Linked DNA regions of Homo sapiens: region 2 is linked to region 1. Evidence: fine-mapped expression QTL. A gene starts in region 1. The other region holds a variant in brackets. All regions are shown on one strand. Distances are from middle to middle.

Evidence for each region. PIP is the estimated chance that this variant, and not a neighbour inherited with it, causes the effect. A credible set is the group of variants that fine-mapping cannot tell apart.
Region 2: its variant is the best candidate, but not a certain one, in a credible set for the expression of LIPT1 in whole blood (TOPMed, PIP 0.59).

The regions. Positions count from the first base shown.
Region 1 is chr2:99,151,964-99,157,339 of GRCh38, reverse strand. LIPT1 (lipoyltransferase 1) reads right to left here and starts at 2,373. Exons shown (of 2, transcript NM_145199.3): 1 at 2,289-2,373. TSGA10 (testis specific 10) reads left to right here and starts at 2,398. Exons shown (of 21, transcript NM_025244.4): 1 at 2,398-2,647. RefSeq lists enhancers at 1,796-1,845, 1,876-1,955, 2,036-2,235, 2,266-2,495, 2,556-2,755 and 1 more.
Region 2 is chr2:98,912,433-98,917,808 of GRCh38, reverse strand. All of the region lies in intron 1 of CRACDL (CRACD like), which reads left to right. Among named protein-coding and RNA genes, the nearest start is that of CRACDL, 21 kb to the left of the region's middle. RefSeq lists a silencer at 389-683 and an enhancer at 4,652-5,235. The variant G/T (reference allele first, on the strand shown) is at 3,215.

The DNA.
Region 1 (5,376 bases):
AGTGATGGTACTGGGATCCAGAGTTCAGGTAGGGGCAGCCTTAAAGGAGAAAGTAACAAATAGGAGTGGTGGTCACTAATAAGCTGGATGGTGTCTGTGGATATGGAAATTGTCAAAGATCTTGTGAAATATCTTTTCCCAAGATTAAGGCTCTTACTCTTGTCTGCATGTGCAGAGTGTGGCAGGATGGCAAAGTAGTTAAGGACTTAAATTTTTAATCCTGGCTCTGCCACTTACTAATGACTTTAGGGAAGTGGTTTAACCTCTAGCTGCTTCAGTGGCCTCAGACGTCATAAAATGGTTGAGAGAATTAAATGTGTTAATATGCATAAGCCATTCATGTTTGGCAAATATGAAATGTTAACTGTTATGACAGGGTTCTCCCTTTCCCATCTCTATTCTGTGCTTACTGTTCCTATCATATACCATGTATTCCCTCAAGTGAACAAAGATTCCTAACCAAGACACATCAAAGTGGCATTTACCTTGATAAATTAACTATAGTCCAAGATATTGACTTTGGTCAAAAATGTGATCTTGTTAGGGTTCCAGAATTGATCCAATTCATGTATTGAGCCAATGCATGTATTTTAATAGTGCTAAAAATATCTCTCTTCATCCAGGTATTGTATATACAGTGTGAATAAAACACAACAAAGGTATTAATTCAACAAAGTTTTCATCAATTACATGACAGACATTGTTCTTAGCACTTGGGAATCATCAGTGAGTCAAATGAATAAAGGTGATAAGGAGGGCTATTAAAAAAAGTAGATGGCCGGGCGAGGTGGTTCACACCTGTAATCCCAGCACTTTGGGAGGCCAAGGTGGACAGATCACCTGAGGTCAGGAGTTTGAGACCAGCCTGGCCAACATGGTGAAACCCCGTCTCTACCAAAAATACAAAAATTACCTGGGCGTGGTGGCAGGCGCCTGTAATCTCAGCTACTCGGGAGGCTGAGGCAGGAGAATCGCTTGAACCCGGGAGGTGGAGGTTTCAGTGGGCCGAGATGGGCTGGGCAACAGAGCGAGATTCAGTCTATTAAAAAAAAATGTAGAGCTGATAAAGGGAGGATTGTAACTGTGTATGTGAGAAAACTTACATTGCAATTTTAAATAGGGTTGTTAGGCTAAGCCTCATTAAAAAGGCATCATGTGAGAAAAGATGCAAGAAGCTGTTCTAAGCACCTGAACACGTAAACCAATAAACAGACCTCAGTGAGGATGTGACATTTCAGTTGAACCCCGAAAGATAAGAAAAAATCACACAGAGTGAGAAAAAGTGAAAACAAAGGGATGTCCAAAAATCCCTGACTGCCAGCTTATTGATTTACAAAGAGAACTATAGACCATCTATCAGATATTCAGATGAGCCTGTGCAATTATTCACTGTAGGTCTGGTGACAAGCCAACTCTTAAGTTTGCTTGGTGAATACATAATCAGAAAAGGACTGAGTTACATGATATGAACGTCTGACGGAATGGGCTCTGGGGAAGACACTTCCTTAACTCAGGAGAGCCCCTGCTCTTAAGCCGGGATACCCTCTCTCCCCTAGAGAAGGCGTGGATTCATCTGGCACAGGTGTGCCCCTCTTTTTTTATTCTATGCTCCAGTAGCGGATCAGACCCCGACTGAGTAATGCACGGTATTTCAGGATATTTCACAGTCGTTGGGATAGTGTCAAGCCTTTGAAGTTCTGGTTAAATTTTGTTCCTTCAAAATCACTTTGAATCTTTCTACTCTCACCCTTTAATGACTAATTTTTTGAAGTTTTTCCTCGGAAGACTTCCTTACCTTCCATGTTCTTGGGACACTTCGCTACCTCTGCACTGCCAAACACGGCTCCCCATCACTGAACTGAAAGCGAAAACAGCACAATCCCATCTATCTTTCTAGGCAGGCGCAGCTTCTTCATAAGACCTCGCCAAGACCCTATTATTTTGTCCCCTCTCTAATGATATACAACTTACTCAGAATCTCATTACGGTCGTGTGCATGTTTTACTTCGCCCTTTTGGCTCCCAGGGGGCGTGCACACAGCTAGCGTCCAACATGTTTTACGATATTTACCCTCCCTCCTGTGTTCGGGATCAACCGTTCCTAACAGTGAAATTAGGTCGTCCCAAGTGCTGAGGAGAAAGTGTGCACACAAGAGGCTTCAACACCGGCGGAGGCGACCCGCAAGTCCTGACCCACCGCCAGAAACACCGCGCGCGCCCAAGACCCCACGGCCGCCCACGCGCTACGGCCCGCAACATCCCGGTTTGAAGCGTTTCCGCTTCACCCACCTGCGGCTTCCGGTCGTACCCACGGCCTCGTGAGGGCTCGAGCTGGAAAAGTGCGTCATACGACCCCGAGCAACCGGCAGGCCTTGCGCGCGATGCTGCCCCGCCCCCTGAGGGCCGGCCCCCTGAAGCGCAAGAGAAGGAGGGGCGCGCAGGGATCGCGCCTAGTCTCTCCGCCTGCGGAGCCGTGGGGTCCCGGCAGCCCGCAGGAGTGCTAAGTAAGGGTCCTTCAGGGCGGGAACCAGGTTCCAGGCAGGGACGCAGGCTACGTTCGAATAAAAGTACCGAAGGTCATAAGGCCCCAGTTCAGATGGGACTTCCCCGCGTGACAGCACAGAGATAACGGCCAGCCCTGGGCGAAGGTAGGAGAGCGGGCGTGCCAGGTTGGAGGGGTCATTTCGTGGAGCGAGTTTAGGGGGAGCCCCCAGAAGCCCAGAGCAGTCAGGTCACACGACGGGCAGGAAGGAGTACCAGCAAATACTTTTTATTGAGCATACAGGTATTACGCTGGGTCTTTACATATCTCCTCCAAATAAGTGAGTCCAAATGGCAGGTAACTCGAAAGGTGAGAAATTCAAGTCAGCTTTGAAAGACACATTGCATTTAAAGGAAAAACGGTATTCGCAGATGATAATACAGGATGGAGTGGATCAGAAAACACACTGAGGCTACTGATCATTCCCATTTGCCAACTCACTGCAGTTGGCAAGAAAACTCTGTGACTCCATGAGATGGGAAATTACACCAGCAGTCAAGGTAGCAAGGTAATAGTTTCGGCTAAGTTTTGCTGCATAACAAACTGCCTCAAATAGTGGTTTATATCTCTAACGTGGGCAAGGTGGGTGATTCTTCTGCTAGTTTCTCCTGGGCATATTCATGTGGCTTCATTCAGCACAGGTTGGCTACGCTGGGCGGTCCAAGATAGCCTTATTCATGCTCTGGCAGGTGCTGCCTGGCTGCTAGGGCATCTCAATTCAGGCCTAATCTTGGAAGCAGCGCCTCAGCCATATTCTATTGGCCAAAACAACAACAAAGCCAGCCCAGAGTTAAGGCGTGGGGTAATGGACTTCACCTCTTGATGAAAGAAGCCCAAAGAATTTGTGGTCACCTTTTTCAACCTTGCACAGAAATTAATCTCTCCTTCAGTTAAAATAGAAACCACTAAGACTTGCCTCTTGGAGTAAGAATCATTCAGTGTTCAGTTTGCTGATGCTGATACGGTAAATGACCAGGGCTTCATATAAAGCTACAATGAAGACATAATGACACCTCCTTTCTTTATTATCACACCTTTTACCAAGGTCACTCTGAGTAAGTCTATCTTGTATTATGCAGGTGGGAATGAATTTTGTTCAGAGTTAACTGCACTAGGAATTTTCCTAGTTATTATTAAAAACAGTCACAGAATATTGTTGCTCTTTGCTTATATTACTTCCTTCTAAATTCCCTTTCTCTGAAATCTGAGATGGTACAACTTTGGTTTTTTTTCCTAGTTTCTTGATGAAGAGGTTTTAAAGAATCCCATTCCCTCCTCCCTGCTCCAGGACTTCTGTCCCTTGGTTATTCTTACCTTTACCTACTTCTTCAGCTTCTCCACTGGAACCTTTCAAGTGACACTCAAACATGCTGTACTCTTTAACAATCCTCCAGTGACCTCATTTCTCTTTCCACTTGTCATCCTGTCTGCTACCCTTCTGAGCCAAGCTTCTTGGAAAAACTGCTATACATCCAGTATCTACTTTCTCACTTCCCATTCATTGTTTCAACGTACTCCAAAATGGCTTTTCCCCATTATTCCAGCAAAAGTGCTTTTGCTAAGGTCACGGGTGACATTCATATTGCTAGATCCACTGGACTTTTCAGTATTCATCTAAGTGTTCATTTGACTACCTCAACCTGGAGATTCCTGTGGACAACTTTGACATTACCCTGTCAACTCCTCAGTCCCTTTTGCCAGGTTTTCCTCCAGCCTCACTGCCAACTCCGCAGTCCCCTTTGCCAGCTACCCTGATCTAGTCAGCCCTAAATGTTGGAGTTCCTCAGATCTTTATCTCACACTACATTTTCCTTAAGCAATTTCATTCATTCTATGGCTCTAAGTACCATTTCTGTATACAACTTCAAAATTTATATTTTTTAGTTCCATAGATACAACTGCCTTGTAAACCTGGTAAGTCTAAAAGCCATGCTCCTGAACTCACTCTTTCCCCCCAGGGATCCTGCATGCATAAAGGCTAAAGCCTTTTTTGCCAGAAGCCCTTTCTTCTTCCTCACTTTCCGCTTCCAAACCATGACTACATCCTGTCAGACTTCACCTGGACTCTATCCCCTTCTCTCCACTTTTATGACCATCACCATCATTCACTTAGACAACCATGTCACTGCAAAAGCTATAAATGTCCTCAGAGGCTGCTCTATGGAGTAGCCATTCTGTTTCTTTACTTTCTTAATCAACTTGCTTTCAAAAATGTCCTGAGATACGCTTTCCCATTTCCCACGTTAAAATCAAGTTTATGGCCCAGTGGGAGGATCACCTGAGGCCAGGAGTTTGAGACCAGTCTGGGTAACATTGTAAGACTCTGTCTCTAAAAAAATACAAAAACATGCTGGGTATGGTGGCACATGCCTGTAATCCTAGCTACTAGGAGGCTGAGGCAGGAAGATCGCTTAAGAACAGGAATTCGACACTGCACTGAGCTATGATCGCTCCACTGCACTCCAGCCTGGGCAACAGAGTGAGACCATCTTAAAAAAAATCAGTTTTATGTGGTATGTCTTGTGTTGTGTTATGTCCCTCTGAATGCTATACGTTTCTTCATGGCATATCACAATTTGCATCTTATATAATTACTGTATAATCTCCTGTCTTTCCTAGTAGACAGGCACAAAACTCTACAAGGCACTGGCTATTTTATTCACTACTGTATCTCCAGCACCAAGCACAGTGCCAGGCTAGGTGAACAAATGAATGATTTATGTATTTTTTTTCTCTTCTAAAGAATTACGTTCTGTAAATAATAAAAAGCATTGTCTTTTTGGCTTATGTCCCATTCAACAATTGTTTTTCACTCTCAATATTCCCTACAAACAC
Region 2 (5,376 bases), 240 kb after region 1:
AGACATTGACAACTGGGAAGGATTAATGGGTGAGAGATGAGCAACTACCTACTGGGTACAATGTTTGGGTGATGGTTACACTAAAAGCCCAGACTTCACTACACAATATATCCATGTAACAAAATTGTGCTTGTACCCTTTAAATGTATACACATTTTTAAAAAGGAATTTGCTCGTAAAAGGAGAAATAAATGTCAGTAAGTGTGAGAAAGTCAATCTTACATTAATCAAGTAGGTGCCTATTAAAGTAAGATACTATTTTTTGCTATTAAATTGACAAATTTGTGGTGTGCTTTGCTTTTGTTTGTTTGTTTTTGTGAACGATGGTACTCAATGCATGTGAAAGTGTTTGGCAAGGACTCTCATATGCCTTGGGAGAGGAAGCTGCAAGCTTTCTGCCAAGCAGTTTGGCAGGATGTCTCAAACCCTTTAAAAGAATTCCTCCCTTTATCCTGGGGATTCCATTTCTAGGAATTTATCCCAAGGAAACAATTAAATCTGCAGTCCAAAATTCCTATGCAAGGATGTTCATCACAATGTTACATATAAAGGTGCAGATTTGGAAGGAATTTGAACATCCAATGATGGGGAATGAGTCATTCGTCTGCCGGAGTGCAGTGAGGCCCTTAGGAACATTTCTAAAGGATGCTTAGTCACAAGGGAATGAGGGAACTTCATGATCTAAGGCTAAATGAAGAAGGCAGGAAGGATAGTGGGCCGAGCCGGAGGGAGAAGAAGGCCCATGGGGAAGAGGCAGGGGCCAGTGCCAAGATAGGAGACAGAAGGTGCAGGATGTGTTGGAGGGCAGGCTCAGCTTCATTTCATTCAGATTCCCTTTAGTAAATTCTGATTGAGCAGATACTGGGTGCAAAGTACTGTCATTTAGGCTCAGTTTAGCAAAGGAGATGGTTTGGGTGAAGTATACCGAAGGACAGGTGCTGACCCCGGGTAGGCTCTTGCTCAGGGCAACAGGCAGCTGCTCTGCCCTGTGTCCATGCCCCCACTCAGGGACTCGCTCCTCTCCTGGCCTCTCACCCCTTCTCTGGGGAGCTGCTGTCTTCACCTCCTCTTCCCAGGGTGCATAGAACTTTTAAAATTAAAAAGAAGAAAAAAAATTCAGGATAATAAAACTTTTTAAAAAGAGAGGTTGTATCCTACATTAAAAAAAATGATATTTATGTGTGGGAGTAGGGAAAAGACTGGAAGGAAACATATAAAAATGAGATTTCTGGTTAGCTGTGATAGAATTATGGGAGATTTCATATCTTTCTATATTTTTATAATCAGCATTTTTTAAAAAAAACAGCTTTATTGAGGTATCATTGACATATAATCTGCACACATTTAAAGTGCACAGTTTCATACATCTTGATATATGTATATACCTGTGAAACCAACACCATGATCAAGATAGTGCACGTACCCATCTTCCCCAAAATTCCTCATGCACGTCCATAATCCCTCCCCAGATCCCCTGTAGGGCAACCCCTGGTCCACTCTCTATCCCTATTACTCAGTTCACACTGTTTCCTAGGATTTGGCTTAAATGGAATCGTGCGCTTTTTGGCTTCTTCCAGCCCATGATTATTTTGTGATTCATCCATGTAGTTGTGTGTGTCAGTGGTTTCTTCCTTTCTGTTGCTACGAAGTATTACATTGTGTGGGCATAGTACAGTTTTTCTAATCCAATGAATCACTTGATAATTAGGAAAGTCTCCCCTTTTTGTAAGCATGCCCAGAGATTGGCTAGGGTCCTGGGAGTTTGGATCTGTGCCATCCGTCTGTCTCTGTAAGTTTGGGACAGTTCCTCAGGCCTGGCCCAGTGACCCTGAGGGCAATGGCCCGGCCAGCCCAGTGGGCACCTGGGCTGTCATTCGTCAAACACAAGGCTTGGCCATGCCTTGAAACACTCAAGCTGCCTAGAAAGCATGTCCTCATGGTCAGAGCTTTGATTTGGGTGCCAGGAGGTTTAGTGGTGGTCAGCGGATGTGCTTAGTAATTGCCTTTGTGCCTTGCCTCGGTGGGAGAGTTGGAGAAAGCTTGATGTCTTGTCCGAAGTTGGTGTTGCCTAACTTCCACGTGTCACTCATGCCCTTGCCTACACCTATGTGTGGCTCACAGCTATTTCCCCCACCCCCAGCAGGCAGCCCACCCTCTCTGAAGAGCAGTCCCCTCTTTGCCTGCCCAGTGCAGCCCCTACCATCACTCTGTGGCTCTCGTCCTTCACCTGGCAGAGCTGATGGCTGTCCCTCTGTGATCTAGGTGACTTTCATGAGGTCTCCCTGTCTCTTGGATTAGCACAGACCCAGGCAGCTCCTCCAGGGCTCCACAGCAAGTCATGTTCCACCAGTCCCCGGGCATCCCTGGTCCCTATGGTCCCATGGCCTGCTCCCTGCCCTGTGCCTTGCCCCACTCATCTCTGAGGGTTCCAGGAGGTGCCTCCCACACACTCAGAAAAGAAACTGCTATGATACCTGCTCCGGTCAGCTCCTGGCACTGCCTCCAGGGCTGAAAGGGAGGACTTAGCCTGTGCTGTTCCGTGTAGAAAGGGGCAGGTGGCCAGCACCTCTCCAGCACTCTGTGCCCCCTTGTCTCTGAGCCTGAGTCTCCTCAGGTCTGGCACGTGATGTCCTTTTCTGCCTTCTCTTATCACTCCAAGCATGAGTTGGACCCAGTCCTGTCCTGGTCGACCTTCCTCCCCTCATTATTTCTCTACTTTGAGCAGCCTTTGCCAACCCCCTCAAAACCACTCATACTGGCAGGGACCTGTGACTGTGAACAGAGGCTGGTGCCAAGACCCTGGGTCTTCTAGACCCGGGGACTCTGGACAGCACCTCTTTGCCCACTGGACACCCTCCAACTGCAAACAGCATCTCCTGGGGCTGGGCCCTGCTCTGGGAGCAGCCTTCCCCTTCTTCTCTCTCAGGGGCCTGGAGTCCTGGGATGGTGCTGTCTAACCGGGCACAGGAGGAAGAGAGGCTGGCTGCCCAGGGACTCCCTCTGGAGGAGTGCTAGTGGACCTGTGCCCGGAGCCGCCCAGCCTCAGGCCTCAGTCCATGTCCCCACGTTCAGCAGAGACACTGATGGAGGGGTCTGTTGGCAGGAGAGCCCCAGTTGTGGGGCCAGCGTGAAGCTCCATGAGGTCGCCAGCCGGCTCCCCAGAAGCAGGCGAAGGCTGGTGGGGGGCAGGGGACAGAGCTCCTCTGTGCCCTGC[G/T]CAAGCTCCTGTCTTTAAAAAAGTCTCCCTTGAAGAGGATGGAAACTAACAGTAAGCTGTCCTGGCCCATATCCAGCCATGTAATCTTAGAGCCCCCCACCTCAGCGGGGACAGGACTCAACTTCCGTAACCTGATGTCTGGGTGAGGGCTGCAGGCTCTGCTGGAAGCTACTGCAGGGCTCCTCCTCATGCTGTGGGCTCAGGCTTGGGCCCCAACCTTGAGGGGAGGGTGGAGGGAGTGAGGGGGTAGGGTCCAGCCCAGGAAACAGGCCTGTGAGGAGGTGGTGCTCCTTGCTGTGGGGGGCTGGGAGCTGGGCCAGCAGGACCCTGCGAGTTGCTCAAGGGCCCCTTCCCATGTCTGCAATTACAATTACCTCTGAAGTGAAGAGCTTCACCAACACAGTCACCTGGGTCCTTGGGGCTCCTGCCTCCTCCCCCTACCTGGCTCCTGCCTCGGCTTCCTGGCTCCTAGTCATGAGAGGGGCATGGGCAGGCAGCCAGCCTCTTACTGGCCAGATGATGCTGAAAGCCTGCATTGCAGAGGTGATTGCTTAGCCTTTCAACAGGGCACATACAATGCCCATTCTGGGAGGGAGGCAGCCGAGGCTTCCATGCATTCAGGACCTCCCCAGGTCCTAGGGCTGCGCATAAAGCGTAAACCATGGAGTTGGGTCTGAAGCTGGCTTTATATTCTCCCCATCTCATCCTACTGGGTTGCTGCAGGATCACCTGCCCCAGGCCAGGTGCCTTGCCAGGGCTCTCACATAGCTTAGCTGATTGCATCCTGTAAACAACCCTGCAAGAAAAGGATTGCCTGAATCTTCATTCTAACGACTGGGGAGGCTCAGAGCGTGTAGGTCACTTGCACAGCCATGTACATTTGCTAGGGCTTTCTGCTCCCGAAGACCATGCTTTCCGTGACTCCTCAGATGCCCAGACTTGCCTTTGGGTGGGAGGTGTGGTCCTGAGTGACTAAGGGACTCCTGGGTGAGTCCATCGGCTTGGCCCTCTGCCTGCACCCTCCAATCTATCTCCTCCCAGCCAGCCCCGTGGGTCCTTCCCAGTCTGACCACAGTGCTTCTTGTGTCTGAGCCCTTCCCCACACTCCCCACAGGCTCCAGTCTTGTACTCCCTGTTCCCCAAGCACTCCCCTACCACAGGCCTCACACCTGTGTCCTCTCTGCCCAGGGACCTGCCCCGCTGGCTGACTGCCCACGGACCACCCTGAGTAGCTTTGCCAGCTCTCTTCCCTTCCCACCCCCCGACAGAGGTGACCGTTCTCATGTGGCTTCCCTCTAGACAGCACTCCACACACTTCCTTTACAAGTGGGTTACAGACATGCCTGTCTGCCTCCTGCACAGACTGAGGATTCTCAAGGGTGGGGATGGCACCTTAGGTTCTGGCATACTCAGAGGGAGAGCACATAGTAGGTCTTCAGGAAAAGGTTTTCAAATAAGATTGCATTGAACTTCTGGAGGCAAATTATCTCCCTTCTTTTCTGATCAAATGGTTTTTATGTTTGGGAAATGTGGCGGTAGTGTAAGAATTTGCCACATGCTGAAATAGGTCTCAGTGATAAAGAGTAACAGGTTTAATTTTTAATTCCAGGTTTTAACTCCATGATTGTGTGCTATGAGTATATGGCTGCATGTCTCAAGAAATTCACTGGCTTTAAAATGTGGGCTTAGCTACTGCCAGTATGATTTGATGAAAGCGGATAGAGGTCTCAGATCCACCCCCGGATTCCACCGTCAGGCCCAAGGACGGACCCCTGGCCATTGACTGATGCCAAGTGGGTGCCTGGCAGCAGCCTTCCTTCCCATCCCTGCTTCTGGACGCCTCAGCCGTGAGTCAGAGCATGTGCAGCGTGGGCTTGTGCGGGTGGCAGGGAGCCCAGAATTAGCTCAGCTGCGTTTCAGCAAGGCTGCAATGGGGAGGGGGAGGCTGTGCCAGGCGGGGGCTGAGAGTCAGCACCCTCAACCACAGTGGGGGTCGGCTCTCAGGAGCTGTCATAGACCTCAGGGCATTCAGGGAAAGCCTGCTGTGAGCTGAGCACAAGCCCGATCATAGATGAGCAGAGGGTCAAAGGACCAGGCCTTGCAAAGCCGCAGCTGGTGTGACCCCCGCCTGCCGGAGACAAACATGGACCCTGCATGGGTGT